Linked DNA regions of Homo sapiens. The protein of the gene in region 2 interacts with the protein of the main gene of each other region in a pairwise test. Each region holds a gene or a part of one and is shown on either strand. Other genes may lie near its edges.

Evidence for each region.
Region 1: the proteins of PRPF40A (region 2) and CDKN2C interact in binary tests that used the Homo sapiens proteins (3 or more experiments, as listed by UniProt).
Region 3: the proteins of PRPF40A (region 2) and NAA60 interact in binary tests that used the Homo sapiens proteins (3 or more experiments, as listed by UniProt).
Region 4: the proteins of PRPF40A (region 2) and BEND7 interact in binary tests that used the Homo sapiens proteins (3 or more experiments, as listed by UniProt).

Annotation. Positions count from the first base shown.
Region 1 is NC_000001.11:50,966,379-50,973,247, reverse strand, and holds the start of CDKN2C (cyclin-dependent kinase 4 inhibitor C), read right to left. Parts: upstream 3,004-6,869; 5' UTR 2,880-3,003; coding exon 2,751-2,879; intron 1-2,750. UniProt on the Homo sapiens protein: Interacts strongly with CDK6, weakly with CDK4. Inhibits cell growth and proliferation with a correlated dependence on endogenous retinoblastoma protein RB.
Region 2 is NC_000002.12:152,707,456-152,714,478, reverse strand, and holds part of PRPF40A (pre-mRNA-processing factor 40 homolog A), read left to right. Parts: intron 1-2,111; exon of another isoform or gene 2,112-2,175; intron 2,176-7,023.
Region 3 is NC_000016.10:3,439,183-3,446,690, reverse strand, and holds the start of NAA60 (N-alpha-acetyltransferase 60), read right to left. Parts: upstream 3,012-7,508; 5' UTR 2,925-3,011; coding exon of another isoform or gene 2,864-2,924; 5' UTR 2,854-2,863; intron 1-2,853. Other genes in the region: ZNF597 (zinc finger protein 597), read left to right, coding at 3,538-3,570, 5,758-5,884. UniProt on the Homo sapiens protein: N-alpha-acetyltransferase that specifically mediates the acetylation of N-terminal residues of the transmembrane proteins, with a strong preference for N-termini facing the cytosol.
Region 4 is NC_000010.11:13,526,001-13,534,019, reverse strand, and holds the start of BEND7 (BEN domain-containing protein 7), read left to right. Parts: upstream 1-5,005; 5' UTR 5,006-5,486; coding exon 5,487-5,547; intron 5,548-5,837; exon of another isoform or gene 5,838-6,195; intron 6,196-6,216; exon of another isoform or gene 6,217-6,588; intron 6,589-7,798; coding exon 7,799-7,882; intron 7,883-8,019.

The DNA.
Region 1 (6,869 bases), on a different chromosome or scaffold from region 2:
TTTGCAAGTTATTTAATATTGGCTACTAGGTGTATTCAATGTTTAGAATCCTTCATTTTAAGTTACAAAACAGTACTGATTATTAAGGTGTTAAATAAGCCACAGTGTTCTAAATTGCTTATGATATCAATTTATATAAAACTAAGTTCCTGATATGCCTTGTATCACAGTAGGAAATTATTGTAGGACAACTGTTCTTGAAAATAATGAAATAGTCACCCTATTACATTATATACTGTTTCTCAAAGTTCTGACAAGCCTCCTGATTTTCAAATGAGCAAAAGAAGAAAAAATAAGATATTTAATGGGTGTTTTGGGACACGGACAGCCTTGTCTTGTGGTTTGAGCTCATTTAATAATCAACTGGTGATCCTGTGTTAGTTCCTTTTTCAGTTATTATCAAGCATTTAAGGAACAGCTATTTGTAAACTGCCAACATTTTAAAAGTCAGAATGTGGTATTAACACTTGCTATCAACATACAAATAATTCACATAACAAAGATTATCTACTATTGTTTGAATATATTTCACTCTAACAGTGGTCTCTTATAAAGTATCTTGTAGAACAGCATGCAAATATAAAATACATATAATTTAGTTGTGAAAAAATATTACTTTCATTAACATGCCACACATTTTCAGAATTTACACTGGTTTATTTATATCTAGGTATATCCATAATAATCTAAATTTATAATAAATATCTTGTATAATAGACACTCAATGTTTATGAAATTAAATGCTAATGGAAAATACAAAGTCGTTCTATCTTTTTTAAATGTTTGTTTAAAAAAATCTAATCACACATTAAATAACAAAATATATTTAAAATGAGTAATATTTTGTAAATGCAAACTACATAGATGGACAAGATATTAAGCTCCCCTGTTGATAAAACTGTTGATTTTTAGCTCTTCCTTTGGAGCAGTGGTAAACAGTGATACATAATTTATATTTCAAGAACTTCAATGAAACATACTTTTTGGTTATTAAAAATTGATACGACCACAACTGTCCCTAAAGATTTAGTCATATTTAAGGACCTGGAATGAGAAAAATAAGAGACAGATACCTTGGATCTTCGTAAAGCAAACATACGATTAAGGCCTTTGATATTAACCTGATAGAAAAATGTACACTAGGAAGGTGGAAAAGGCTTTTGAAATTGAGTTAAATAAACATAATTGTAGAAGAAAATTCACCTTTTTTCACAGAAAATAATAGCAATATTGGAAACGGTTTTGAAGAAAGTTATTTCTTGACTTATGACACAACTTCAGAGTCAGGATTATACATATTGAAAATAAGCCTTGAAACTCCAGTTTCTGTGTGTGTGTTTCGTTATATGTACAAGGACTAAGCCACAATAAGTGGGTGTTAGTATCTTGATAAGTATGTTTAATATAAACAAGATTGCAAAGTTGTATTAAAAATGTTTGTCAAAACTTTTTAAAAGAATATTATTAATTTCCCAGTCTTCCTGTTCGTCAAAAATCCTGTAAAATCTTATCATGAACATGGGTTAAGTAGTTCATTCTTTGTGAAGTTTATATAATCTTTTGAGTTTTCAAAAGGAAACTTTTCAATATATTAAATTTGTTACTTTGCTATCATCACTAAACCTGTTCAAAACTACTAGGTAGAAAAAGGAAAAAAAATCATTACTTAATGTAGCAGCAATAACAAGATAAATAATTTAGTATCTGTGCATAAACTTCCTTAATACTGAAATTTTTGCAAGGCCAGTGTATTCTGACTGAAAATGTACAGACTGTATGGACTTTGTTTGTTAATAGTATATCTCTTGGCACTTAAATTTTTAATTCTTGTAACCGAAACAAAGCCCTCTAAAAACCCTCTCCCCACTGGGTTTTCAAAAACAGCTTCAAGTGTTGCATTTCCAAATAAGAATAGCTCATAAGAATATCATCAGAACTCTGATAAAGCAACTATTTTAAACTATTTTGTCATTTTTCTGTTTCTAAGCCTTTCACCTAAGTTACATGATAACATTCAGAAGAGGAAAAAAATTATCAGGTACAATACTTGGCAGCTGGACATGTGTCAATTGTTGCCTGTAAATCTAATTACTGAAAATTAGAGCACACCACGGCATGACCGTAGAGACAAAGACACTGCAGCTGAGCTCTGATTAGAAAATTCAACTTTTTATTCCTCCCGACTCCTGAATGAGTGGATGGTATTACATTAACTGTAAAATGTACATCCTGTCCCGGTGCCCAGGCCACCCATTCCAAACGAGGAAAGGTCGTTTGTCAAAACTTGAAGCATTTGAAGGAAAAACACCCTCATCAGTAGTCAAGAAAATTAACGTTAAAGTCTATTATTGGGGGCAAAGTACGTAAAACCACTAATAGCAGTGTATTTACTTCAAATAATAATCATAATAATGTGTTTACAGAGCTGTCTTTAAAAACAAAACAAAACAAACAAACCTCGGCCCTACACTGACTACTTTAAAATCCCCACCGTCACAAAAACATTCCAAAAACTAAGACCAAATCTGGACCCCACTTGATATCAAGGATGTTATTGGATTTGAGGAGTTTGTTCAAAGTACGTCATTTTGAGAAGTTGCATCCACTTAAAGATATAAAATATGGCAACCAACTAGGTTTAAAAACAGTGAAATTTTATGTCCCTGAAAGCTTAAAAGCTGTAAATCTAGAAACCCGGGTCACGTAGGCAACATTATTGACTTGTTTTCCCCACCTCTCTTAATACCAACCTGCAGCGCAGTCCTTCCAAATCCATTTTGTGCATTGACGTTTACATTATTTTGCAACAAACTAGTAAGTTGCTCTAGGTCCCCCCTGGCAGCTGCGGACGCCAACTCGTTCCCCCAAGGCTCGGCCATTCTTTAGGGTCCTGACGATCAGGAAAAGATGAATTAGTCGTTTTTCTTTTTCCCCTTTCCTTTGCTCCTAACCAGGCTGCATGATGGCATCGGAGACTGACAGAAGGACTGGGATGGTTAATCTGGAGTAGAGCTTGGTAGTAAATACTAGTAAGATCTGCCTGCCAAAAGCCCGCCCCTCGATTCACACGTGATTATTCAGCAAAACTGAGCCATTGGAGAGGGGCTCCTCGCCTCGCTTTTTTAGCTTAACCCCTATGAAGAATTCTGACGACTCCACAGAGAGACACACAGACACACATACATTCCTGGTTAATGACTCCGGACGTCAGATGTAGGCAGAGCTGTCACGTACCTACGCTACAGATCTCTGTGAGGAGTGTGTGTGGAGACTCAAGGGACTATAGATCGGGGCAGAAAATACCGCGGAAGGAAAGACATTCAGGGGGAAGAAAAGGCATTCACCCACCCTTGTTCACGGTGGTGACTTGAGCCGTGTGAGGCAGAACTGCAGGGGCAGGTCCTCCAGGGGGCTCGGTTTCCATCCGTCTCGCCGAAGGGATAGTCCTGGGTCCTCCGCTGCTGGGAGAGCGCCGCGGTGGCTGGATGCTGACGTGCTCCGGAGGGTTAAAAGATGATCGCCAAAGGCGAACGGGAGTAGCAGTTCGGTGGCCCTCAAGTTACAGGTCGTAACGATTGCCCAGTGCTCTGGGCTTCTCCAGAAGAGCCTTTGGTCGCGTCCGGGCCAAGCCGTGGGCTAATGCCGCTCAGGAAAGCTCCGGAGCCCGCCCGCCAGGCAGCCGCAGCCCCGCCGAGCCTCAGAGGCCGTGGGAGCCGGGCTCGGCGCGCGTCTCCGGAGGCTGCCGGGCGTGCGGCGGGCCCCCGAGAAGCCCGTCATGCCGGCCCCGCCAGGTCCCGGGACTCCCGGCAGCCCGAGGAAGGAGAGTGATGCGGAAAGCGTCTACGGAGCCCGGACTGCTGGGGCAGCTCGCGGCAGCATTGCGGCTGCACTGGGCAGCCCCCCCGGGAACTTCCCGCCTACGACCGAGCTCGTTCAGGCTTTCTGCTGTAGGCACTCATTGAGCTGCTGCCGCCGCTGTCCTTTCCTTCCTTTCCCGGTTTTGTGGGGGCCTCTGGAGATGGGGAGAGTCCTGGGAAACGTAGGCCAAGTTCTGAGTAGGGAGAGTCGCCGCAGTTCCGGGGCAGCCAGTCCGGTCGCCGTCTCGGCGAGCGCTCAGCAGCCTCGGCGCCCGGTGCCACTTTGCCACCTCTCGCGGTCCCCGGCCTGTGCCCCTTTGCTGCGGACAGGGCAGCCGCCAGCCAGCTGTGCCCTGGAGCAGAGCCTGGCAGCACTGCTTCCTCCTTGGCCGCACCGCTCCCAGTGACAGTTTCTTTTGTAGCTGATCCCCCCCTAGATCGCCGGTCCCTGCTCCTTTCACCCCTACAGGCACTTGCGTGTCGCCCCCTTTTTTGCTTTTTTCCTTCACTCCCTCCCTTGCTGCTTTTTTCGCTGAAACAATTGCTGCTTCTGTTGCCTCTCAGAGAGGGTGCCGGTTTCTTCTCCCTTTTTTCCGACCTCATCAGCTTTTTTTGAAAAGAAAAAAATTGAGCGCTTTTTGAGTTGAAAAACCCGCCCCCATTTTAACGGCAGAGTTTTAAGGAGGCTCGGCAGAGTTGCAGCGCCGCGGGAGCGGGAAGGCCGGGCGCCGCCCACGCCCCGCCCTCCGCCCTGCTGGCGCTCGCGCTCGCAGTCTCGCACGCTCCGCCCGCCCGGTCCCGCGCCCTCATTCCCGCCTCCCGCTCTCCACCTCCTCCCGTCAAGTCTCTCGCGCCGGCTCCCTCCTGCCGGCTAGGCGGCCTGTCCCCAGCTGGAGCGGGGTTCGGCCCCGCGAAGTCCGGCCTGCCCTTCTGCTGGCGGGCTTGAGTCTGTGACGCGAACCCCCAGCTGCCCCAATTCCTACGGGGGCGAGGACAGGGGTTTGTTATTTAAGACGGTTGTGGAGGGCCGCAGGGTCTTTGAGGCTCCGCAGCGTACGCTGCGGGAAGGCGGACAGCGAGCTGGCATAAAGGGAGTCGTTCCTCAGCGCTAGCGGGGCAGGTCGGCCCGCCTCTGTGCTCCCCCGCCAGGCTCGCAAAGTTCGGGCGGCCAGGCTGCGGCTGCTGCTGCCTCCTCTAGGCGCGCGCGCTCTGTAAACTCGGCGTCCTTCGCTGAGCCCTGGCCTCGGCCTCGCACCTGCCAGATCCATGCCCGACGGCGCGGTGGGCAGGGGTGGCCGCGGGGGTGGAGGGAAAAATCCGGACTGCCACTAAGCACAGTGCTCACAAAAAGCAAGTCTTGTGTAGACTGAATTTTATGAAAACTTAAGACATGGCATATGTAAGAACGAACTCTGAAGCCTTAATTAATCAAGGACTGGAAACTGCGAAATAGTCCTATTATTAGAGAAAAAGGAGAAAAGCAATTAAATTTAAAGCAAAATTTAAAATAAGTCGTGTGAAGTGTTTTCTAACAAAGCCATTTCTTGGTTGCCGAAGTTCTCTCACTACTTAGAAGTGGCTTGGATTTTGGGGATGTGGGGTTGGGGAGGGTGTCTAGAATGGTCTCTCTCCTAATCCTTTATTTAATCATCCGACACCAATTTCCAGTACTTTTAACTTCCTCTTTTAGCTATGTGAGATTAATTAACTATTGCTTTCTGTATTTTTATACTCTTAAAAATATCCAACACGGTTGCATGATGCACCCAGTGGTCAAAATGAAACCAAGCAAAAAATGACAAGTCTAATTAGAACCGGCCTTTGGCAAGCGGATCCTCAAGCAGTATCTGTACCCTTCTTGAAGTACACTGGGAGTATTAGCAACAAAACACACCAGAAATATCTGGGTAATCATCCAGCAAGAGATTGGTAGGTAGAGGGAAAGTTGAAACTGGGAAGAATCTGGCAGTGTTTTCTTTAATGTAATTGTTGAGAAAAAAACTAGAGTTCTTTTCTTAGGTAACTAAACTTGAATTGTGAATCAAATGAGAACTACAAAACAAGAAATTAACTCTCTTTTTCTTACATATATGTAGACGTTTCAAATAGAAACATTTAAGATTCCATTTATACCAGTAAGAAATAAATAATAATTTACTTTTGATTATTCTGGGAACTGTGTAATCTTTTCATACAGCCAGAGGGTGTGAGGACATATTAGCACTGTTGGCTGATAAAAGAGAACTGGTATTAGTCCAATTTATGAGGATTGCCTTCTAGCATTTATTATGGTTTCTTGCTTAGAGATAAATTGTAAAGAGGAAGAATCTTAAATTGTATGATTACATAAAGTACGGGTAAACGTACTATAATTTTCATGAAATAAAATGCTTATTGCTGAACAACTAAGGAAAACTTATGATAATTTAAGATGTACACAGAGTTGTATTAAGATTTTTGGAGGCCCTAAGCACTGAAAAGATTTTGATGTTCTACCACCTCTTCCTTATATAGAAATAAAAAGAAAAATAACAGAACCCCAAAATAACAGTAAAAAAGTCCAACAAAGTTCTGATTTTTTTCCCATGATGGCTACTTCAGTGGTTTTGCTGAGATATTAAATTATTTGGCAAAGGTTTTTTTTTTTTTTTTAACATTCTGGTTTTGCTGGTGCCCTGAAGCATATGCTTCATCTGCCTGTTGGGTAAACCAGAATTGGCAGTGCAGAGCTTAGGGTCTTAGTTCAGAAGGCATACATAAGTATTACACAGTAACTCCAATGAAAATCTAGTATTTATTGAGGGCTAGTTCACTACAGCAGATTCAAGGGTATCTCTACCCTCAATAAGCTTATATTCTAACATGGCTTACAAGAAAAATTCATAGTTAAGTTTCTACTATATTGAGAGTGGTGCTTTCCTTTTTAACATCAAAATGATAAGTACATCAAATACTGAAATATAGCCTTTATAGTTAGATATTAAATATTAACAGTCATGGAAACCTTTTGCT
Region 2 (7,023 bases):
CCAGCTAGTCATAGTTCTAGTTAAAAAAAAAAATGCAGATTTTATTTTTTAAAAGTACTTTCATGTATCTCATTGACATAAGCTGGTCACAGTTTGCTTTATGGCCCTTTCTCTTTAGCTGTATCAGTGACCATCTTTCTAGTAAGTTTACTTGCTACTCGGTACACATCCATTCAAATAACTGATTTTTTTGGTGTGGTTTTCTTCTACTTTTTCCTAGGCTAATATATGCCACGTGCCTTTAAGTAGACCTAATTATTTAGATGTTTAGAATTCTTCTCCCTCTGAAGGCTCCTGTTAGTATAATAAATAAATGTTTTAGTAGGAGTTATGCCCTGAAAGTCCCAAAAGAATCTCCGCTGTTTTTGTCAGAATTATATAATTCCCTTTTATCCCCTTAATATTTCACTAACAAATATGGGTCCCAAATCTTGGTAAAACAAATTCTTGTTTTAGCTTTATAACAGACTGGGAGAGCATGGATAATTTGAATTCTCAAATCAGAAATCATATTTGAAACTCTGTAAACATTGCTTTAAAAATTAAAGGTGATAATAAATAGGACAATTGATCCTTTTTCCTGCATTATTTCTTCTGCCACTCTTGGAAGTACTCAGGAGGAATAAGTGGTCAGAAGATAATTGAGAAGAAGCAGGATGTCTGTCTGTATCATTCACAGTAGTGACAGTTGGGAGGGTTCTGCCATGCAATTTAAAAAAGTCAGTTCACAAATTCTTTAGACTTTGGGACTGAAGGTTATAAAAACCTTCATGTGTTGACTGGTTTGCATGAACATCTCATGCTGGGACTAGCTAAAGACTAAAATTGGTGGCAGTCTTACTTGCCAAATAATTGTGGTCTTTGGAATGTTACCAATATGACATGAAACTGTAAAACTTGTTTGTAAAATAATATGCAGACTGGGTAGCATAATGATGTACGGAAGCCAGGGTTCATAATTTCTCAAATGCATCAAGCTATTTAGCTTAAAGAAGTGGTGTGTTCAAATTTTTTTTTTCTTAATTCATGAGATGACCTAGAGTGCCATCTCATGCATTTAGGCTGACTCTTAGTAGTAATAAATATTTGATGATTATCAAATTGAGCTTAATATTCTTTCAGGTTTATTTCAGTTTTCTATCTTGTAGATTAAATTTGCCTCTTATTCTATATAACTTTATAGGAAAGTCATACTTTTAGAGTTATAGGATCTTATAGCTGAAAGGGACCTTACAGGTTGTTTAAGCTTTAAATAATATGTGATTTAAGATGCTTTGAGGATCACTGGTTAAATGTTAGTAAAGAAAGATAAAGAATTTTCCCTGCTGGATGGCAGTACTCAAAAATTTCCCATTGGGAGGCTGAGGCGGGTGCATCGCTTGAGCTCAGGAGTTGGAGACCAGCCTGGGCAACATGGTGAAACCCCATCTCTACAAAAACTATTTAAAAATAAGCTGGGTGTGGTGGTGTGCGTCTGTCGTCCCAGCTACTTAGGGGGCTGAGGCAGAAGGATTGCTTGAACCTGGGAGGTCGAGGCTGCAGTGAGTCAAGATCACGCCTTGCACTCCATCCTGGGTGACAAAGTGAGACCCTATCTCAAAAAAATAAAGATTTTCTGTAGAGATTTCTATCAATAAAATTATGTGTGAGGCTGTCTTCTTCCTCAGTGTCCATAGTAAATACTGTTTTCATGTCTTTTGTGTTTTCTACACAAAGGACATGCAGGTCCTGCCATCTTTATCACAGATGATTATGCCTTTGCCCCAGAGTCATGCTAGCTGGCTCTTTTTTTTTCCTCCCTATTTGAGTCTTTATTTTCCTCTATCAGTGAGAAGAGTAGAGTAATTGAGTTAAGGTCCCTTTCAGCTCTAACATCCTATGATTCAGTTCAGATCATTTGATAAGAGTAGATATCAGATTTTATGGGATGATATGGAAAGAACAGAAAATTCCTTTAGTAATGCCTCCCTAATTCTATTTATTCAGTGCTTTTTTTTTTTGGTCTTTGGTCAGTAAACTGATAAATGAATAATTGCTTTTTACAAATGAGTTTGATTTTCTTGCTCCTATATTGAGTAAGGCTGGCTCTAATAGATCTTATTTTATTTCAGTTCCTGCTACCACATGAGCCCAAGTCGTCACTCTCCCATGCCTAGGTTATTCAACAGTTTTTGAGTTGAGTTGGTTTTCTTGCTTCAAGGATGCCCCCCTGCCCCCACAAATTTTAGATTTCAATGTGTTATCTCCTTGCCCAAGAATCTCCAGTACTTTCAGTGCCTATAACATAGTATCTAAATTCCACAGCTTAACTTTAAAGAACCTCCCCATAGTACATGTCAAAGCAGGATTCAAGGCTGCATGTCTTTACACTCCCTAATTTGAACTTAGGCTGGTCTTTTCACGGTGTCTTGAGTGATTATATTAGTTCACAACTTCAAACTTAGGCTGTTCTTCTTACCCTCCTGCCCCCAGCTCAGTATCACCATGAAGTTTGCTTTGCTTACCTATGTTGTACTATTTCAAGTCCTGCCTTCTCCAAAAGTTTCTCAAAAATGACTTTTGCCAACATATACCTCCCCTTCAGATTATTAAAGAAAATATTTGTAATCTACCCATAACTCTTACCGTTTCACTTATTTTGGCACCTAGTTATTGACTTGTTTTATGGTTTCTTAATTTGCTTTAATTTTCCAACAAGTAATAGATTGTAAGCTCTTAGAGGGCAGGGGCTATGTTCTGTACTTTTTAAGAAGCCTATAGGTGCTGAGCACAGTTCTTGGCACATCATGGGTGCTCAGTAAAATACTTGTTGAATGAATGAAACAAATACACAGGTATTCTTTCCTGCAGTATAAGCCCATAAGTCAGTCAGTGTTAAATGTGACTGTTTCCAGTGGTTACTTGTGACTTTACGTTGTTACTACTTATTCTTGTTTTTAGTGTCTGCCTCTTTACTCTTACTTTTTCATTTGACAAAAATGGAAGATAAATAAGATGAAATAAATAATTTTTGTTTGGAGAATAAAACTAAAATATTTCCATTTGCAGTCGACCCTCTGTATCCAGAGATTCAAGCAACTGCGATGGAAAATAGTCTTTAAAAAAGCAACAACAAAAAAATACAAATTTTTAAAAATAAAGTATAATAACTTTTATAGCATTTACATTGTGTAAGGTATTATAAGTAATGTAGAGGTAATGTAGAGGAAAAAATAACAAAGTAGGATATAGGCCTTGCAGAGAAATTTAGTGTATTGGTACCTTAGACTTACCTGACTGATTTGACAAATTTATTTGTTGCTGTTCCTTCTGAATTACCCTTCCTTTTGAGTAGCTACAGGATCCATGCCATTGAATTGGGCATTAGCCAGTGACAAAAAAGAGATAGAATTTTTGTTTTTTAGGTCATCTGCTCATAATTCTTGAATCTGGGTAACTTCTGGGTACATGTGGATGACTCAAGCAAGTACTTTTAAAAAATATCTTAACTCAGACCTAATGTCTGTAAATTCTTGACTCAATGTGGTTAGATTTTTGACAAATGTTAATAGTGAGACTACAAATACGTTTATTTTCATTATCTTTAGATAGCAGTTCATTTAAATATGAGCTCATCTATTCACAAACTTAGTGTGGAAAGATCTAAGGAGGACCACATCAGTTGAGAAGAATGACCGGCATCCCCTGCTCCCCTTTTGAAATTCACAAGGCATAATATTTACTAAAGTGATGAGAAGTCTTGCAGAAGCCTTTTACAATTTTTACTTAGTATTTCTGTCTTATTTGACCATCTCCCCCATAAATCTCCCACATAAAGCATTTGTTTTGCTTTGTGTAGCACATTGTATGAAATTAGCATTTTGTGAGAAATGCTGAATTAGGGCCCTTTATTCTTTTAGTTTGCTCTTTAGGAGAAAAAGGCAACATCAAAATAAGTTAGTGTTAACACACATATGCATAAACGAAACAGCTTGTGTAGTGCAATGAATGTATTCATTAGATAGTGGATCAAAAGAGGAAACAAGTCAATAGATTAACCTTTGATTTTTAAATTAGGCTTGTTGAATATCATGATAAGACTAATAGTAGTATTAATAGATAGTAAAGATTTGAGGCTAGGCACGGTGGCTCATGCCTGTAATCTCAGCACTTTGGGAGCCCGAGGTGGATGGATCACTTCAGGTCAGAAGTTTGAGACCAGCCTAACCAACATGGTGAAACCCCATCTCTACTAAAAATACAAAAATTAGCGGGACATGGTGGCGCACACCTGTCATCTCAGCTACTTGGGAGGCTGAGGCAGGAGAATTGCTTGAACCTGGGAGGTGGAGGTCTCAGTGAGCTGAGATCGCGCTATTGCACTCCAGCCTAGGCAACAATAGCAAAACTGTCTCAAAAAAAAAAAAAAAGATTTGGTACATATGCTACACCATAGCAGTGTACTAGGGATTTTGGGGTTTGTTTGTTTGTTTGTTTTGAGACAGAGTGTCTGTCACCCAGGCTGGAGTGCAATGGTGCAATCTCCACTTACTGCAACCTCATCCTCCCAGGTTCTCCAAGTAGCTGGAATCACAGGTGCGTGCCACATGCCTAGGTAATTTTTGTATTTTTAGTAGAGTCAGGGTATCGCCATGTTGGCCAGGCTGGTCTCGAACTCCAAGGCGCAAGTGATTCTCCTGCCTTGGCCTCCTAAAGTGCTGGGATCACAGGCATGAGCCGCCTTGCCCAACCTGTTTTTAACCTAGAGAAATAGGTCCATGTTGTGAAGGTTTATAAGTAGGAATTAATAGATGACATTCCAAGTAGAAATTATCAGTCTCATTCTTATTTTTTTCCTTACCTTTATTTTTCTTTTATTCAGTACACATTTAAGTATCTTGGGTGTGGTACCTAGTGTACAGGTGATGTATGCCCTGCTCTCAAGGAGGTCATTCCTGAGATGCCATTTTGAACTCATTTTTGTCTTCTAACTGCTGATTTGGTTGTTATGGTATTTCCGTACATTTGGAAATCTAGTGGCTATGAATATTTTATACAGGTTGAGTATCTGTAATCTGGAAACCAGAAATGCTCCAAAATCTAAAACTTTGAGTGCCAACATGACACTCGAAATAAATGCTCATTGGAATGTTTCAGATTTTTGAATTAGGGATGCTCAACCAGTAGGTAAAAAGGCAAATATCTGCAAATCTGAAAAAATCCCAGTCTGGTGTCAAGCATTCTGTATAAAGGCCTCTCAACCTGTATTTGCCTTCTTTCGCTGTCTGGTCAAGTACTTGTACATTATGTATCACTTATTTTAAGCAAGTTAGTTGTACTTAGCAGTTATTAGAGATGTGATTGTTGGAAGTGAATGTTCAGTGTTGCAAAGTGAAAATAGCACTCAGGCAAAAGTTTTCTCAGCAAGGCAGTTTACTTCTGTAGAAGGGTGTGTCTTGCAGATGGAGCAATCGTGAGATGGACAAGGGAGGGGAAGAGGTTCTTATTCTTAACACAGCTGGTCCCCACTGTTGTGTCTTTCCCCTACTGGCTAGGGTTGGACCGCACAATCTAAAGTGACCCAGTTGACTAATGTTTGAAATTGAACCCAGCTGTCTAGGCTGGAAGGGAAAGGCTATCCATTATGACACAATGCATGTCTAGGAGAAGGAAGAGTTTATCTGAATAAGGTGGAGGAGAGCTGAGGAAGGTTTTGGTGAGAGCTGTTTTTATAAGTCTTTGCACTAAACTATGAGTACAGGGTATGATACAGCATCCTGTAAGAATGAGCACACCTATAATGGCTGTAAGAGAAGGATTGAGGCTATGATTCCTTTTCATTTACTGAACTACCTCTCTAGCCATGTTGAGAAAGGGTTATCGACTCCAGAATTTTTAGTTAGTTCATTGGATAAAGCGGTAAGTCTTTGTAAGACGCTTATTATGTTCCCAGTGGGGTCAGTGTTGTTTGGGATAAAGGTACAACAGTGAATTTTAATCATAACACAAACATCCCCTATTTTGGCTAATATATCTAGGGCCATTCTGTTTTCTCAGGCCATCTGGCTAGTGGGCCCCAATTGTTCTGTTACCCTTTGACAGCATCCGTGGTGTAATTATAAACCACTGCTGATTATAATAAATGTAATTTATCCAATCTACGTTTTTATTAGTTGTCACTCACAAAAATATTGACTCAAATCCTGCAGCTATTTGATCTCGAGTTTTAAATTTAAGAGCATTCACATCTTGATATCCTGTCTCAGTTGCCAAAGTTTGTTTTAGGTCTTTAACTTCTACAATAGCTACCTTGGTCTTTTCATTAGATGGAGGAGGAGCAATAGTTTTGTTGTGAGAGGTTTTGGAAGAAGGCTTAGGGGAAAGTGTAGGCAGTAGGGGATCAATGCAGCATATTTCAAAGGATCCAATAGGTTCTGTTCCTGAAACCTCAGCCCCCATGCCATAAAACTGGCTTAAAGAAGGGAACCGGCTTATAGAAGGGGAAGAACTTGGAGGGTTTGAGATAATAACCTGTATTGGACAGTACTGGTTTAGCTCACAGCTAGGGGAAGCTGTTTCTTTAGTAAAGTGAATGTATGGCTTTAGGAAATTACAGCTACTGGTTGGGGCAGTTTATCCGTGCTCTTTAGTGGTCTACAGAACGTTTACAACTACTGGTTGGGGCAGTCCATCTGTGCTCTTTATTGGTCTACAGAACATTGGACCAACTGCAGCATAAAAGCTCTGTCTTGGCGGGGTGTGGGGGGCAATACTCCCAGTTGACATTGGGGTCTTTATTGAAACCTTTCCAGACTAAATGATCCCGATTCACTAATATCCAGTCTGAGCAGAGCCAGGAAGGACAGAGGTACTTTTTTGGAGTGGAGAGCTGCTTCGACGTGTCAAGTCTCCACAGGGTATAACAAGGCAAGCATCAAATATAATAGTTTGAGGCGAAATTGACTCGGTTACATTAATAATGAGGTGATCAGCAATAGAGAGGAAAGAAGAAGGAGTAATAGAATAGATGAAAGAGAGTTAAAT
Region 3 (7,508 bases), on a different chromosome or scaffold from region 2:
TGCAGTGAGCAGAGATCGCACCACTGCTCTCCAGCCTGGGCAACAGTGAGACTGTCTCAAAAAAAAAAAAACAAATAATAAAGAGTAAATAGTGGTGATCTCTGGGTGACAGGAATGTGTTGCCATTTTTTCCCCTGTATTTTCTTTTTTTTTTTTTTTTCAGACAGAGTCTCACTCTGTCACCCAGGCTGGAGTGCAGTGGTGTGATCTCGGCTCACTGCAAGCTCCGCCTCCCAGGTTCACGCCATTCTCCTGCCTCAGCCTCCCGAGTAGCTGGGACTACAGGTGCCCGCTACCACGCCTGGCTAATTTTTTGTATTTTTAGTATAGATGGGGTTTCATCGTGTTAGCCAGGATGGTCTCGATCTCCTGACCTTGTGATCTGCCCACCTCAGCCTCACAAAATGCTGGGATTACAGGCGTGAGCCACCGCACCCAGCCTTTCCTAACTTTCTGAAATGCACATATACTACTTTTGTAATGATGTTAGTTTTACTATTTTTAAAAAGATAATTTTCAGAGAAAGCAGATGCTGGGCTATAGAAATAATTTCAATACAAACAGGTTGTAGTTGTTATTACTGGTACCATGTTAAAGACAGAAATGGAAAAACTTGCAAAAGATTGTCGTGGAAGGATTTTTAAATTTTGATGATTAAAACATGTTACTTGAACATATAGTGGGTATACAGTCAAGCATTTGTGATTTTTTACAAAATTGAGTTAGGGATATAATGTGGTCTAATTTTTCAATCTTGGTCTATCTTGGACTTTGTATGTCATCTCTTTATTTTCAGGAAGATAAAGCTTTCAAGCTTCCTCCTTCTTTGTCCACTTGTTTATAGTTTTGATGGCTCTTAGGAAAGATAGTCTAGGGAAGATTTTTTCCTCTCCCATTTCAGGTATATCCCTCTCTCTCTGGTAATCCACTGAGTTAATACCACATGCTTCATTTCAAAGCATTGGAAACTGTGTTTATTTCTTTGTAATTATGGCAACAGGATTTAAAGAAGAGAGCCACGGGAGTCTCTTGTTCTTGGTGAAAGAGCCACAAATCCAGATAAGGAGAATCTCAGACCACAATGAGACAGTGCTGATGTAAGAATAGCATTAAATAGGCGGGGCGCGGTGGCTCACGCTTGTAATCCCAGCACTTTGGGAAGCCGAGGTGGATCATGAGGTCACGAGATCGAGACCATCCTGGCCAACATGATGAAACCCCATCTCTACTAAAAATACAAAAAAAAAAAATTAGCCGGACGTGGTGGCGGGCACCTGTAGTCCCAGCTACTCAGGAGGCTTAGGCAGGAGAATCATTTGAACCCCGGAGGCAGAGGTTGCAGTGAGTCAGGATTGTGCCACTGCACCCCAGTCTGGCTACAGAGTGAGACTGTCTCAAAAAAAAAAAAAAAAAAGAGATAAGCACAAACCAAGAAGGGAAAGATGACTACGTGAACACCACAGTGACTCAACCATGAACATCTCCTTTACTTACACCTTCATATACAGGCTATTAGCTCTTCTTCAACATATATGCTTTGGACTGGTCTAGCCTGTAGGCAAGTTTGTTCTTACCATTCTTCCACCTGTCCTGGAAGCACCTTTACTGGGACTTCACAGCTACCTCTTTTGTGATCCATCCCCACAAGGTCTAGCTCTTAGTTAGCTGTCAAGAGATATCATTTGTGGCAGATACTGCTAGTTTCTTATCTAACTTATTTTCCACATCTCTTTTTTTCATTTGTAACAAAGCCCTAATTTTGTGCAGGTAGATTATCAAGGGAGGCTAGGTCCTTCCCCTAGTGACAGGGGCTGAAGCATGATGGGCCCCAAACAATTATTTATTCTTGGTAATAACTAGTTTAGGATGGGTACATGACACAATACATGTCTGTATATTTTACCTGGATTCTATTGTCAACGTTACCAACATGCTTAGGGTGGCAGAGAAGCACTGGGACCTTGATGTTGTCACTGGGCCACCGAATTAACCAACCTGTAACTGCTCTTTGAACATCCTTTCGGTGGGTTTTCTGTTACTTGTAGCTGAAACTATCCTATCAGATATTCCACAAAATCACATTACCTAAGTTGTCAAATCTCCTAATATTGTTTTAATAACCATGCAGCCATTCATTAAGCTTTTAGATACAGGAATGTGCCTGGCACTGGAATAAGGAAATATGTTGAGACTTTTCAGGCTTTTCTATCAAGGTACCTATCATTTTCGTCTTTTTTTTTCCCCAAACACCTTTATAAACTGGCAATTTCTTTCACTTACATTATCTTATAATCTTTGAAATTACCCTCTGAGTTAGCCCAGAGAGGCACTCTGAGCTGTTTGCAGCTGAGGAAAGCAAAGTTGTAAACTGGCCAAGATTACCAACCAATCAGTGGCAGAGCTTGGGGAGGAGCTCAATTTTCCAATTCCAAATGCCTACACCAGGGCACTCCCTCCTCCCCCAGCACACAATAGGAAATGACTGGCTCTAGGGTAGGCTGCATGTGAGGTATCCGGGGGCGAACAACGTCCTGCGACGCTAACCTATGGCTCTATTCTCGCGTGGGATCCTGTGACTAGGAAGCTGAAGCAGCTCGCTTAGGCTGCAGCTGCGGGTACAATACGTAATGCCTCTATAACACTTTGAGTCAGAGTCCAGCAACCTGGCCTACACCGATGTGAACGTTGTGAACGTACACAAAGATACTCCTTCATGTTCCACGGCCCCACCATCCGCTCAAGACACAAAGGACAGCTCAAGCCCAGGCTAGGCCCGAACCCCCGCCCTCTCAATCACCTTGCTCTGGCCAGACCGAAATTTCAGGCCTACAGGGCACTGTTGGCCGAACCCACATTTTGTTACCGATTTTCTTTCGAGTTCCGGTGTCTCCCAGTCTTCTTTCTGTCCTTCTTCTCGGAAACATTACGTCCCCCTGGGGTCACCCTAAGACTCTACTTCAGCAGGCAAACAGGCCCGGAGCTCACGGAGGAGACCCCGCCAGCGGAAGCGGAAATGGTTGCTTAGAGAAAAGGAGGAAAACTACCTCTCGCAGCTGCCCAGTGGCTACAGGTCCTCGGTTAAGGTGTTCAATTGGTCAACACAAAAGAAGGACTTCCCCTTCGGGAGAACTTCGACCAATCAAAGGGCAGGATGGCGGAGAGGGCTGAGGGCGGGTCGCTTCCGGCGGCTTTTCCCGCAGCTCCTGCGTAAAGGAGCATGAGAGCGTGGGAGTTTTGCAGTGGCCGTGGCGTTCTTCGTCGCGTCTCGGTCGGGCGTCGCTTTCTGCAGCTCCTGTCAGGGAGCGCGAGGCCTGTTATTAACCGCGGAGCGGTAAGTGGGCCCCTTTCGAGGCCGGGCCAAGAGGAGGAGCAGTCGGCGTAGGTTTTTAAGGGGGGGTTCGGAGGGAATCGAGGGAGGCTAGGGGTAGTGGAGGAACTTGGCAGCGGAATTGGTCCCTTTAAGAACTGTTCTCTCCCCCCGCAGCTTTGTCACGAAGTCCCTGTGGCGTCTTGAAGAAGGCATTCCCCACCCGCCAAATGGCGTCCATGCCCCCGACGCCCGAGGCCCAGGTGAGTCGAGGTACCTTTTTCGTCCAAGTTTATTGCTGCTTTCGGTCTCTGCCTGACCCCCTCCTTTGGAGGAGAGTTGGGCATGCCTGTTGTGGTAGGAGTGCTCCTGAGCCCCAAATAGCCCTTTGACCAAGTGTTCTTCGTTCCAAGACCACACACATAATGGTTTACCAACTTCCTTCTTTCAGAACTACCAACTGGGAGCAGGGACCTGTGGAGGAATCTCTGAGAGAGTTTCTCAATGTCTTATCTGTTTGTTTTGTTTTGTTTGGAGATAGGGTCTGGCCTTGTCGCTGGAGTGTTGCTTGTCTGGCTGGAGTGCAGTGCTGATATCATAGCTCCGTCTGGAACTCAGGGAATCCTTACGCCTCAGCCTCTCGAGTATCTGAGAGGCGCGCATACCACAGTGTCTGGCTACTTTTAAAAGTTCTTTTTTTTTTTTTTTTGATACAGAGTCTCGCTCTGTCGCCCAGGCTGGAGTGCAGTGGCGCGATCTCGGCTCACTGCAAGCTCCGCCTCCCGGGTTCATGCCATTCTCCTGCCTCAGCCTCCCGAGTAGATGGGACTACAGGCGCCTGCCGCCACGCCCTGCTAATTTTTTGTATTTTTAGTAGAGACGGGGTTTCACCGTGTTAGCCAGGATGGTCTCAATCTCCTGACCTTGTGATCCGCCCGCCTCGGTCTCCCAAAGTGCTGGAATTACAGGTGTGAGCCACTGCGCCCGGCCTAAAACTTCTTTATGGAGATGGAGTCTTGCTGCTTTGCCAAGGAACTCCTGGCCTTCAGCTATCCTCCCACCTCGGCTCCCCAAAGTGCTAGGATTAAAAGTGACTTTCTGGAATGGTTCCCAAAATTACAGATTTGGTACTTCTCCAATTTGAATGAATTTTTAAATTAAGCACATTTCTAGACTCCACACTCGTTGAGTAATAATAAATCCCAAGTGATTAATTTATCACACCGTTAGAGAAGGTGGGGTAGGCCTGGATGAAGTGCTGGAGTGAGCTTAGCAATGAGTGTCATGGGGACGAGAGGAAATAGCAAAGGGAAGGATGTTGGGAGAATCCTGTAACCTTTATCTCTTTATGATTCTTCCTGGGCTGCCCAACTTTCTCCTTTTCTTTTCTTTTTTTTTTTTTTTTTGAGACAGTCTCGCTGCGACGCCTAGGCTGGAGTGCAATGGCGCGATCTCGGCTCACTGCAATCTCTGCCTCCTGGATTCAAACGATTCTCCTGGCCCAGCCTCCCAAGTAGCTGGGACTACAGGCGCATGCCACCACATCTGGCTAATTTCATTTTATTTTAATTTATTTTTTGAGACAGAGTTTTTTTTGTTGTTGTTTTGTTTTTGTTTTTGTTTTTGAGATGGAGTGTCGCTCTGTTGCCCAGGCTGGAGTGCAGTGGCACGATCTCAGCTCACTGCAAGCTCTGCTTGAGACGGAGTTTTACTCTTGTTGCCCAGGCTGGAGTGCAATGGTGCAATCTCGGCTTACTGCAACCTCTTTCTCCTAGGTTCAAATGATTCTCCTGCCTCAGCCTCCCAAGTAGCTGGGATTATAGGCATGCGCCACCACACCTGGCTAATTTTTTGTATTTAGTGCAGACAGAATTTCACCATGTTGGTCAGGCTGGTCTTGAACTCCTGACCTCAGGTGATCCACTCGCCTCCACCTTCCAAAGTGCTGGGGTTACAGGCGTGAGCCACTGTGCCCAGCCTTAATTTTTGTAATTTTAGTAGAGACAGGGTTTCACCATATTGGCCAGGCTGGTCTCGAACACCTGACCTCAAGTCATCTGCATCCCCCTCAGACTCCCAAAGTGTTGGGATTACAGGCATGAGCCACCACACCCGGCCCCAAACCTCTCCTTTTCTTAGAGCATCCTCACTTAATGGTTGCCTCCCTAAGAGCCATTCCCTCATCTTTTCTCTTTCAAGATAGACAATAATTCTCACAGTCCACCGTCCTTGTACCACTGCCTAAAAATGTATGTCCATGTTTACTCTCTTCTTCCCAACCCTCACCCCACCCCTTAGAACCCATTTGCCCTACTTCTGCGCTCAAGAACCTTTTACACCGAGCCTTTTATCCCGTGCATCTGATGTTTCTAGCTCTTTTCATCCTTCCTAGGTTAAGTGAGGGGCTGACCCTCCACCCTCTTGTGCTGACACAGGCTCTTGTGTTTCAGGGACCAATACTCTTTGAGGATCTGGCTGTGTATTTTTCTCAAGAGGAGTGCGTGACTCTGCACCCTGCCCAGAGGTCCCTCAGCAAAGATGGTACAAAAGAGTCTTTGGAGGATGCGGCTTTGATGGGTAAGGCAATTGTTTTTCCTGCATCTGGAACTTTTGTCAATTCTAGGAGGAGAACTTCATGCTTTATCCAGATGTTGGTATGGTGGAGTGGGACCTGTCCCTCAGTAATTTATGTGGAGGTGATAATTGTGTGAGAGAAAAAGTTTTAAAATATGAGATGATTTTTTTTTTTTGAGACAGACTCTCGCTCTGTTGCCCAGGCTGGAGTGCAGTGGCACGATCTCTGCTCACTGCAAACCGCGCCTCCCAGGTTCACGCCATTCTCCTGCCTCAGCCTCCCGAGTAGCTGGGACTACAGCCGCCTGCCACCATGCCCAGCTAATTTTTTGTATTTTTAGTAGAGACAGGGTTTCACCGTGTTAGCCAGGATGGTCTCAATCTCCTGACCTTGTGATCACCCGCCTCGGCCTCCCAAAGTGCTGGGATTACAGGCATGAGCCACTGAGCCCGGCCGAGATGATCTCTTAAAGACAAAAATTCAGTCTAGTACAGTGCCTGTGGTTTAGTACAAGAGATGGCAGTATTTGGTAATCTTTCACAAACATTTGTTGCAGTTTACAATTTTACTTGGGAAATCCCATTAGTATCGATCACTATCATTTGCTAAAGACTGGAGATTGATTTACTCTTAAGGGGTGCTATGCCTTACTCACCTAAGGGGAACCATACACAGATGGACTCCTGTGCCTGACTAGATTTTATTTCTGACTAGGATTGAGTATCTAAACTATCTATTCTAAGTAGTTATTCTAAATAGTTTGGAATAGTTGAGATACTCAATCCTAGTCAGAAAAAAATAACTAGAGTAACTAGTTATTCTGAATAACTCATATTTTGTTTCTTCCACTTCTCTCTTCATCATGTTCATGTTGTCTTCTGTCTGCGTAAATGTATGGAGTATATTTATAATGGTTATTTAAACTTTTTTTTCTTGCTAGTTTTAACATTGATGTCATTTCTGGGTCTGTTTCTATTGATTGATTTGTCTTCTAGTTATGGGTTATATTTTCTATATTTTCTTTACTTCCTGGGTAAATTTTGGTCGGATGTTAGATTAAGAATTTTATGTTGTTGGACCCGGGATTTCGTTGTATTTTTAAAAATATTTTGGACTTTGTTGTGGGAGGCAGTTAAGTTACTTGGAGTCAGTTTGACTGTTTCAAGGTGTGCTTTTTTTTTTTGCTTTGTTAGGATAGGTTCAGATCAACCTTTCTGCTAGGACTTATTTGAGTTACTGCTAAGGCAGTTTTTTTCTGTGGACGTTGCTGCTCAATGTCTTATGTCTTTCCACTTTGGCTGGAGGCAACATGAACTGGTTATTGCTCTGTTATTCCTTTTAGGTGGTTCTTTCCACGGCATTGGGTAGTTTCTTCATGCACTTGTAGATTACTACTCAGCCAAAGTTGTGGGGTTATTTTTTTTTTGATACAGTATCTTGATCTGTCACCCAGGCTGGAGTGCAGTGGCACAATCACGGCTCACTGCAGCCCTGACCTCCCAGGCTCAAGCAGTCCTCCCACCTCAGCCTCCCAAGTAGCTGGGACTACAGGCATGCACTACCATGCTTGTCTTTTTTTGTTGTTTTTTTTTTGTAGGGATGGGGCTTTGCCATGTTGCCCAGGCT
Region 4 (8,019 bases), on a different chromosome or scaffold from region 2:
AAAGAAGTCAGACAAAAAATAGCACACACTCTATGACACCACTTATATGAGGTTTAAGAGCAGGCAAACCCAAGCTATTGTGATAGAGGTTAGAAGTGTGGTTTCCTTGGGGGGCTATCTACTTTGAGGGGCCTCAGGGAAGCCTACTGGTGTGCTGGAAAAGTTCTAAATCTTCATCAGGGTGGGGGATACATGGATGTATATATAAGTAAAACAAATTAATTGAGATATCCACTGAAGGTTTGTGTTCCTTATCATATATAAGGTAGATCTTAAAAAGAACAAAAAAAAAGTATTTTAAAGAACCAAGTAAAAAAAAATAAGGTTCATGCATCATATTTAAGAGTCAGGAAACAGCAGACCATTCTAATTTCACTAAAAAATGGTCTTCAGAATGGATTTTTCTCATTTGCAAAATTGGAATATTAATATATACCAATCTCATAGAACTATTAAGAGTTAGATAATGCATACCTATGCTTGAGCTGTAAAAGAAGCCCCATATAAAATATAAGGTAATATTATTTGTGGAACATTCCAACTCTCATTTTCACTTATGAAATATCTTATAAATACTGCCTCCTTTCTCTTAAATTACAATCACCAAAACCAATGAAGTAAACGGGTGTAGAAACTGCATTAGGCCAGCAACACTTGGGAAACGGCAGCTAAAAGGAGGGCATCTATTCCTTCCATGACCGTCTGATGGGTGATTGTCCTAATGTTGAAAAGTGGATATTTATACATATTAAATCTTCCTGAAGGATTCCCAGAATCTATTTAATGACAGGATATTCAATTCCAGAAAATCCAATCAAAGATTATAAAAAGCCTGAAGCCCAATAATTCCATTCTGCTCATCTTCTTTCTGAGGTGTATTAATAAAACAGTTAAACAGTAATCAAGTTGTAGACATACTACATCTACGTACATAGCATGGTTCAAATCATACATTCCTTCTAAATCTGAGCTGCCCAGTATGGTCACCTGTAACTACATGTGACTATGGACAATTTGAAATTTGGCTAGTTTGAATTGATTTGTAATCTAAGGGTAAGATGCATACCAATTTCAAAACTTTGTATAACAAAAAGCATATAAACTATCTCAATAATAATATTCTCATATTATGTGTCAAAATGATAATATTTTAATGTATTCAGTTAAATAAGATAAATTATTAAAATGAATTTCATCTGTTTATTTTTACTTTTTTCAGTGTGGCTAATAGGACATTTTAAATTACATACATAGCTTGCATTGTATTTCTATTCGACAGCAGAGCTCTAAATAAAGATGAAACTTTTCATAATGCTATTCCTCTCAGGACAGTTTTCAGGAAGAGCATTTCAAGTATTAGCGGTAAGGTTACTTCAGGTTTTCTGGCCAAATTATCTGGCTTTGTCAAAGATTGAAACCAACATGTAATCTTTATAATCAAGTGGGTTTAAGCATGGCCATATAATAAAATGTTTGCCCTGCGTGATGTCATTGAATATTTGACCAATTATCTCTGATCTCCAGTAACACATAAACCTGTGGTTCTGGAACTTTAGGGGGCCTTTAAGAATGAGGCAAAGAGTGCTAGCTTCGGCAGCACATATACTAAAATTGGAAAGAATGGGGTAAAGAAATGACTTCAGTAGATCCCCTAGAAAACTTTCCAGGACCCCTCAATACAGACATTATATTTGAGTGAAAACAAGATGGCTACAGACTGATTTGTGTCCCCCACAAACTCATATGTTGAATCCCTGACTCCTAACGTGACTGTATCTGGAGATTGAACCTTTAATAGAAGGTAATTAAGGTTAAAAGAGATCATAAAGGCGGAGCCCTAATTTGATAAGATTGGTGGCCTTACAAGAAGAGGGAGAGAAAGACAGCTCTCTTCCTATGCCATGTAAGTGTAGTGGTGTGCAAGCTAAGAAAAGGGCCCTCGCCAGAAACTGACCCTGCCAGACCTAGATCTGAAACTTGCAGCCTTTAGAATGGTAAGAAAATAAGCTGCTGTTAAGTCACCCAGTATGTGGTATTTGTTAAGATAGCCCGAACAGGCTAATACAGTAGTCCCCCTTTATCCATGATTTCAGTTACCTGCAGTCACCTATGGCCTGCAAATATTGAATGGAAACTTCCAGAAATAAACAATGCATCAATTTAAAATTGTGCCCCATTTTGAGTGGCATGATGAAATCTTTAGCCAACCTGCTCCTTCCGGCCCAGAATAGGAATCATTCTTTAGCCTAGCGTATTCACATTGTCTGCACTATCTGCTCGTTAGTCACTTGTTGGCTTGGTTATTAGAAAACATAAAACAATAAAAAACACGGTATATATGGGGTTTGATGGTAACATAGTATATACGGGGTTCGGTACTATCCTCAGGTTCAGACATCCACTGAAGGTCTTGGACATACTCCCCAAGGATAAGGATCAGCTACTATATGGATACCTGCTACTTAAAGCAATCTCACTTTATGTTTTATTTTATATTTTAATTTTTTGGTAGAGACCGGGTCTCAGGATGTTATCCAGGTTGGTCTTGAATTTCTGGCCTTAAGCAATCCTTCTGTATCCCAAAATGTTGGGATTACAGGTGTGAGCCACTACACCTGGCCCCAAGCAACCTCATTTTAATTAAACATTATTATTAATTTTAATACTAAATGTGATATATACATTTTTGTTAGATAAGAGCATAGTGATTTGCACAAAATGCAGAGTAAACAGACATTTATTTTCTCTAAAAGCTAATAAGACAAGCGTAGCCTGTGTCCTCTGCAGGCCAACTCACTCATAGACCAACTTTGGAAAGCCAGGTTAAAAAGGGTCAAGGAGAAATGACTACTATTTAAAAATATTCTTACTCAAATATTTTATTCTTAACTATATCAAAAATATTCTCTTCAGTAAATGGAATTTGCATTCCCACTTGAACTGAAAATGCTAAGTTGTTAATACCTTCTCCAGGGATTTACTTCTTGGGATGACACCTTCACTGGGTTCGTCATAGTTTAAGCATAATAAAATCTCATTATATGCTCCAAAGCATGAACGATCCGGGAAGTTCCTCAGTCAGTGTAGAACTTAGCCTTACGGCTTTGAGAATAACATTTTAAAAGGCATTACATAAAGAAAGAATGGATCCCAGCCTGGGGAACAAAATTGCATGCTTTGTTTCTTTAAAAACATCCAAAACAGCCGGACGTGGTGGTTCACGCCTGTAATCCCAGCACTTTGGGAGGCCTAGGCGGGCTGATCACTTGAGGTCAGGAGTTTGAAACCAGCCTGGCCAACATGGCGAAACCCCATCTCTACTAAAATACAAAAAATTAGCTGGGCGTGGTGGCCCATGCCTGTAATCCTAGCTACTTGGGAGGCTGAGGCAGGAAAATCGCTTGAACCCGGGAGGTGGAGGTTGCAGTAAGCTGAGATCGCACCACTGCACTCCATCCTGGGCGACAGAATGAGACTCTGTCTCAAAAAATAAAAAATAAAAAAAAATCCAAAACATCTTCAGATTTTAATGCCTGATTTTAAAGAAAGGGGTGGCAGGGAAGGAAGAAACCCAAATAGGGTAGTTGCTTTAATCACTGTTACCACTAATTTTCTGAGAGCAGCAAAGCGCGTCTAAGAACTCCAATAAATCTATACTAAATTTTATATGTCCCATACATATTTTCTGGGAAAAAGGGCCCTTGAGCTTTGAACACAATCTCAAAGGAAACAGTGACTAAAAAAGGTTAAGAACCTCTTGTTGAAGGGTTTGCTTTATTGAACGGAAGAAACAGTTCTCCCTCTCCCCTCCACGCTAGGTATAACCAGCCTTCCGGATGTGCCGCCTTTGGTATCACCCAAGATCTCGGGATGGGTACCCATCCCTGCCTCCACTGCCTGGTTTGCTGGTTACCCTGCTCTTTGGTTCTGTTTCTCCATGTGTGTTTCTGCAAGCTGCCTCAATGTCCCCCTTCCTCGGCAGTTGTCCTACTCTGTGTCCCTGAAATAAGAGCGGTTCCTCAGCGGCTGCCTCATTTGGGTGAGACCCACGTGACACTCATCACATTTGTCAACCTCCCCTTTTTCCTCTCTACTCTTTTGGGGCCACTGGCCTTTGTCCCGTGCCGGAGAGGTAGCCCCCCCATCCCCCGACTCTTTACCCTCTTCCTGGTTGGGTTTGGCAGATACTTTCACGCATGTCCCGTCATGTTCCTGTCCTACCATTCCCAGGTAGTGTGAAATTCTTTTCCTGGCCCACTCGAAAGATGTGAGAAAGAAATGGTGCCTGAAGTGCGCTCTCTGATCCCCCGAAAAGAATATTACACATAACTACTAAGCGCTTTGTGTTTGGGTCCATGATTCCGACATATGACGTGGAGAAGCATAGTGCCCTGCACCTGCCTTGACCATGGCCTCCTGAGAGTCCCCAGGGCCACCAAGCCCCCCATTCCAAGTGCTCTCCTTGAATGTGACTCGGCTCTTTCCACAATCCGCCCAGCCTGGGTTAGGGAATGGGAGCTCTCTACTATATTCTTCTCCACAATATTCTAAAACCTCCTCTCTGTCCTTCTAGAGAGAGCGCAAATGGGTAAGTTTTTTCCCCCTAAAACTTGCTTAAAATCAGCGCGTCGGGCCCCGGGGCGCCCGGGATGTGAGGGCGGGGAGGTGGTTGTCGGGGCGGTCCGCGCCCCCACGGCGAGGTGCACGGAGTTAGCTCGGCCCAGCAAGCGGCGGAGGGAGGCCAGCGAGCGGGGTCTGCGAGCGGAGGCCCGGGCGGCGGCGTCGTCCCCGGGGGCAGGCAGGCCGGCCGGGCCCGGGCCAGGGCGCTGCGCCGCGGCCTCCGCGCCTCCTCGGGGCGCCGCGCGGCCAGGCCGGCGGCGGCCCCCGGGGATGGCGGCGGCCGGGCTCCGCCAGCAGGTGGCCCTGGGGTCCCAGCGGCACCGCCCCCTCCGCCGGCGCCCCTCCTCCCGCGGGGGCGGTCAGCGCCCCGGCCGGCTCTGCACCCGCCGCCGCCCTCCCCGCAGCCCGCCCGCCGCGTCTTCGGGGCCGCCGCCGCCGCCGCCGCGACCGCAGGCTGAGCCCAGGCGGGCCGGCCGCCCCGAGCCGCCCCCCGCCTCCGCCGCCGCCGCCGCGCCCCGGCCCGGCCCGCTCCCAACGGAAAGTTGGGCTGCGGCGGGCGGCGTCTGGAACCCGCGGGCCGGCATGAGCGGGGGCCGCGGGGGCGCCTAGGGCACCGGGAGGCGGCGCCGCGCGGGGGCAACTTCGCCCGGGAGCCCACGCCGCCGGGCCCCGCGCCTGCAGCCCCGAGCCGGCTCGCGGTGGTTCCTCCCGTCCCGCGGCCTCCCCTCGCCGACTCCAGGCGCGGACCTTGGTCCCGGCGGCTCCGCCGCGGTGACACGAGCCCGCGCCGCCGCTGCCGCTGCCGCCGCTGCCGCTGCCGCCGCTGCCGCCGCCTCCTCAGCCCCCGCCGCCGCCTTCCCCGCACCATGGAGTTCTCCGAGAGGAAAAGAAGCAGGAAATCCCAGAGCTTCAAACTGGTGAGCCGAGGTAAGCGGCCGCCGGGGCGGCGGGGGCAGGCAGCGGGCGCCGCGCCCTCGGCCGCCCGCGGGGGTCCACGCTGGGGGGCGCGCCCTCCCGGAGCCCCCGGTCCTTCCCGGTCCCCCGGTGCCTCCGCCGGGCTGGCAGGCAGGGCCGCGGCCGCACACGCCGGGCGGCGGGGAAAGTTGTGCGGGGGGAGCAGGGATGTTATTTAACGTAAACAAGTCGGAGGGCAGCTCAGGAAATTAGCAAACAATGACACCGGGGGGCCCGAGCCCTCCTCGGGGCGCCTCCGGGGCAGGGCTGGGGCGGCCGCGGACCTGCCTGGCCATCAGGCCGAGCGTGGACCCTCGGACCTGAGATTTGCTGTTTTTGTTTTCTGGGGTCTTCCCCCTTCCCCCCGCCAAGAGAAGGAGGAAAAAGGATGACCGTTGTTGTTCTTTTTAAGAAGGAGAAAGAAGCTCACGCCGTGTCCAAGCCCAAGGCGGAATTGTTGACATCCAACATCTCTAGCTAGCTGATTTGGGTTGGAAAGGTGTTTTAGACTAGATCATATAGCAGTCAGATAAGCATCCTTTAAAAAAAAGAAAAAAGAAAAGAAAGAAAAGAAATCCATCTAGTTTCTGACGAATTAACAGGTGTACACCACACTCTAGGGTTTGTATTTTGTCAGGGAGGGGAAAGTGGAATACAGTCTTGTCTGTGTTCAGTTACTTGTTAAGAGTCTTTATCTTCCTGATTTGACTTTTTTTTTTAAAAAAATGATAACTCAAGAGCCATCGTGAAAATATATCTCAAAATGCATTGTCATCTTTAATTAGGGGCAGGTGACTTTTTTCATTGTAATGTCACAAGTCCTCATATTGAGTTTAGACCCGCTCTGTTTAAATGTCGTCTTTTAATCAAGTTGAGGTCAAAGCCAAACCCCAACCTGTCCACTTTTCCTCTGTCGTTTTCTCTAGCATTGGCATCAGGGTAGAAACTCCAACAACCTGCAGAAGTCACGTGTAAACTGATGAAAATTAGTGAAAAAATCGTGGACAATTGCAAGTAATCGAATTTTTCAAACTGAGCTAAGCTAGCTAAGATGTGGATTTGGTTCATCTGAAAATGCTTTGATTATAGGCATTTTGAAGATCCATTCTTATCTGCCTCCCCTAATTTAGTTTGGATACTGTTTAATGAAAGAGGCCTGAAATAGTTTCACGCATTCAAAATACTTGGCTCTTCCCACTTTCTGAGTAAATTTTTTTTTCCACATCCGTGTTGATTACTCAGTTACTTGGACTTTTAAAAGTCTCTGTCTGGGTGATTGCCCTGTTGGTGCTATCTGATTCATTCAGGAATGTAAGCTGCTTTCTTATTGATGACCTCAGAGAACTTAACTGCTTTATCTTAAAAGTGAGAGTAGTTTTGTTGACTTTGTCCTGTGAGGTCTAAGGCCAGAGAAAGGGGACTAGGTGTTAAGGAGGAACCTCTATTTTCATGCCTTAGTGACCCTGCTTTTCAAAAATAGAAGCAAAAATGCAGTAGCCTCCATAGAGAAGCTTGTAAAATACTGTATTTGAAACTTTGACTGACGTAGCAAGTTTTTCCTTTTTCCTTTTTTCTTTTTCTTTTAATTATAGGTCTGATTCTTCTCTTTCTCTGCAGGTGCAGTTTTAGAAAATAAACTTGCATATTAAATAAAGTGCAGTAGCTGAATGCGAAAGAGTCACTTGTGTGAAAGATGAAAATCTTGCTTTCTTATCCAAATCATACTACATTTGAAATAACAAATCAGTATTTTTCATGTGTGCTTGCCTTTAAGCTGCTTAAAGGCTGAGATTTTCTGGGTAAACTGAGAAAACTAGAGTGCTGGCTAAACTTTAAAGCATACTGTTGATATGCTGGTGAAAATGGGTTGTGAAGAGAAATTTGGAAACCTCCCCTGCTCTATGATTGGGCAAACATACTTGCCACCTCAAAGAAAAAAAGCCTAAAAATTGGCATCTGTGGGTACAATTTACCGTGAACATGGTGTGATCAAGCAAAGCTGTCTTCTAAAGCCAAAGTAATCTTTCAAGTTTGCGTACTCCAGAATAAGCAAAGTTTTAGGAATTATTATTGACTACAAATTCTGTGATTATTTCAGTTCTCAAAAAGTTTATTTATAAATTATAGAGTATACAAACTAAATAGAATGAGATTCTAGACTTGACTGCTTATTCCTATCTTGAGGTCCTTAGGATTCTAATTTTTGGTTGTTTTCTCATGCCAGATTATCACCACGAGGTGTATAAGATCCCAGAATTCAGCAACGATGTTAATGGGGAGGCCAAAGAGACACAGCCCATTTTTTTAGGTAGGTTCCTATGTCAATTAATACCTCAGCAAAACATCGTGACCATTTGCAATTAGGGGGAAAAAAGGAAATTGTTCAGGAACGGGAAATGTCTGCCATTGCTTAATGTATGACATTCTTTTCAAGACCTTTTATTT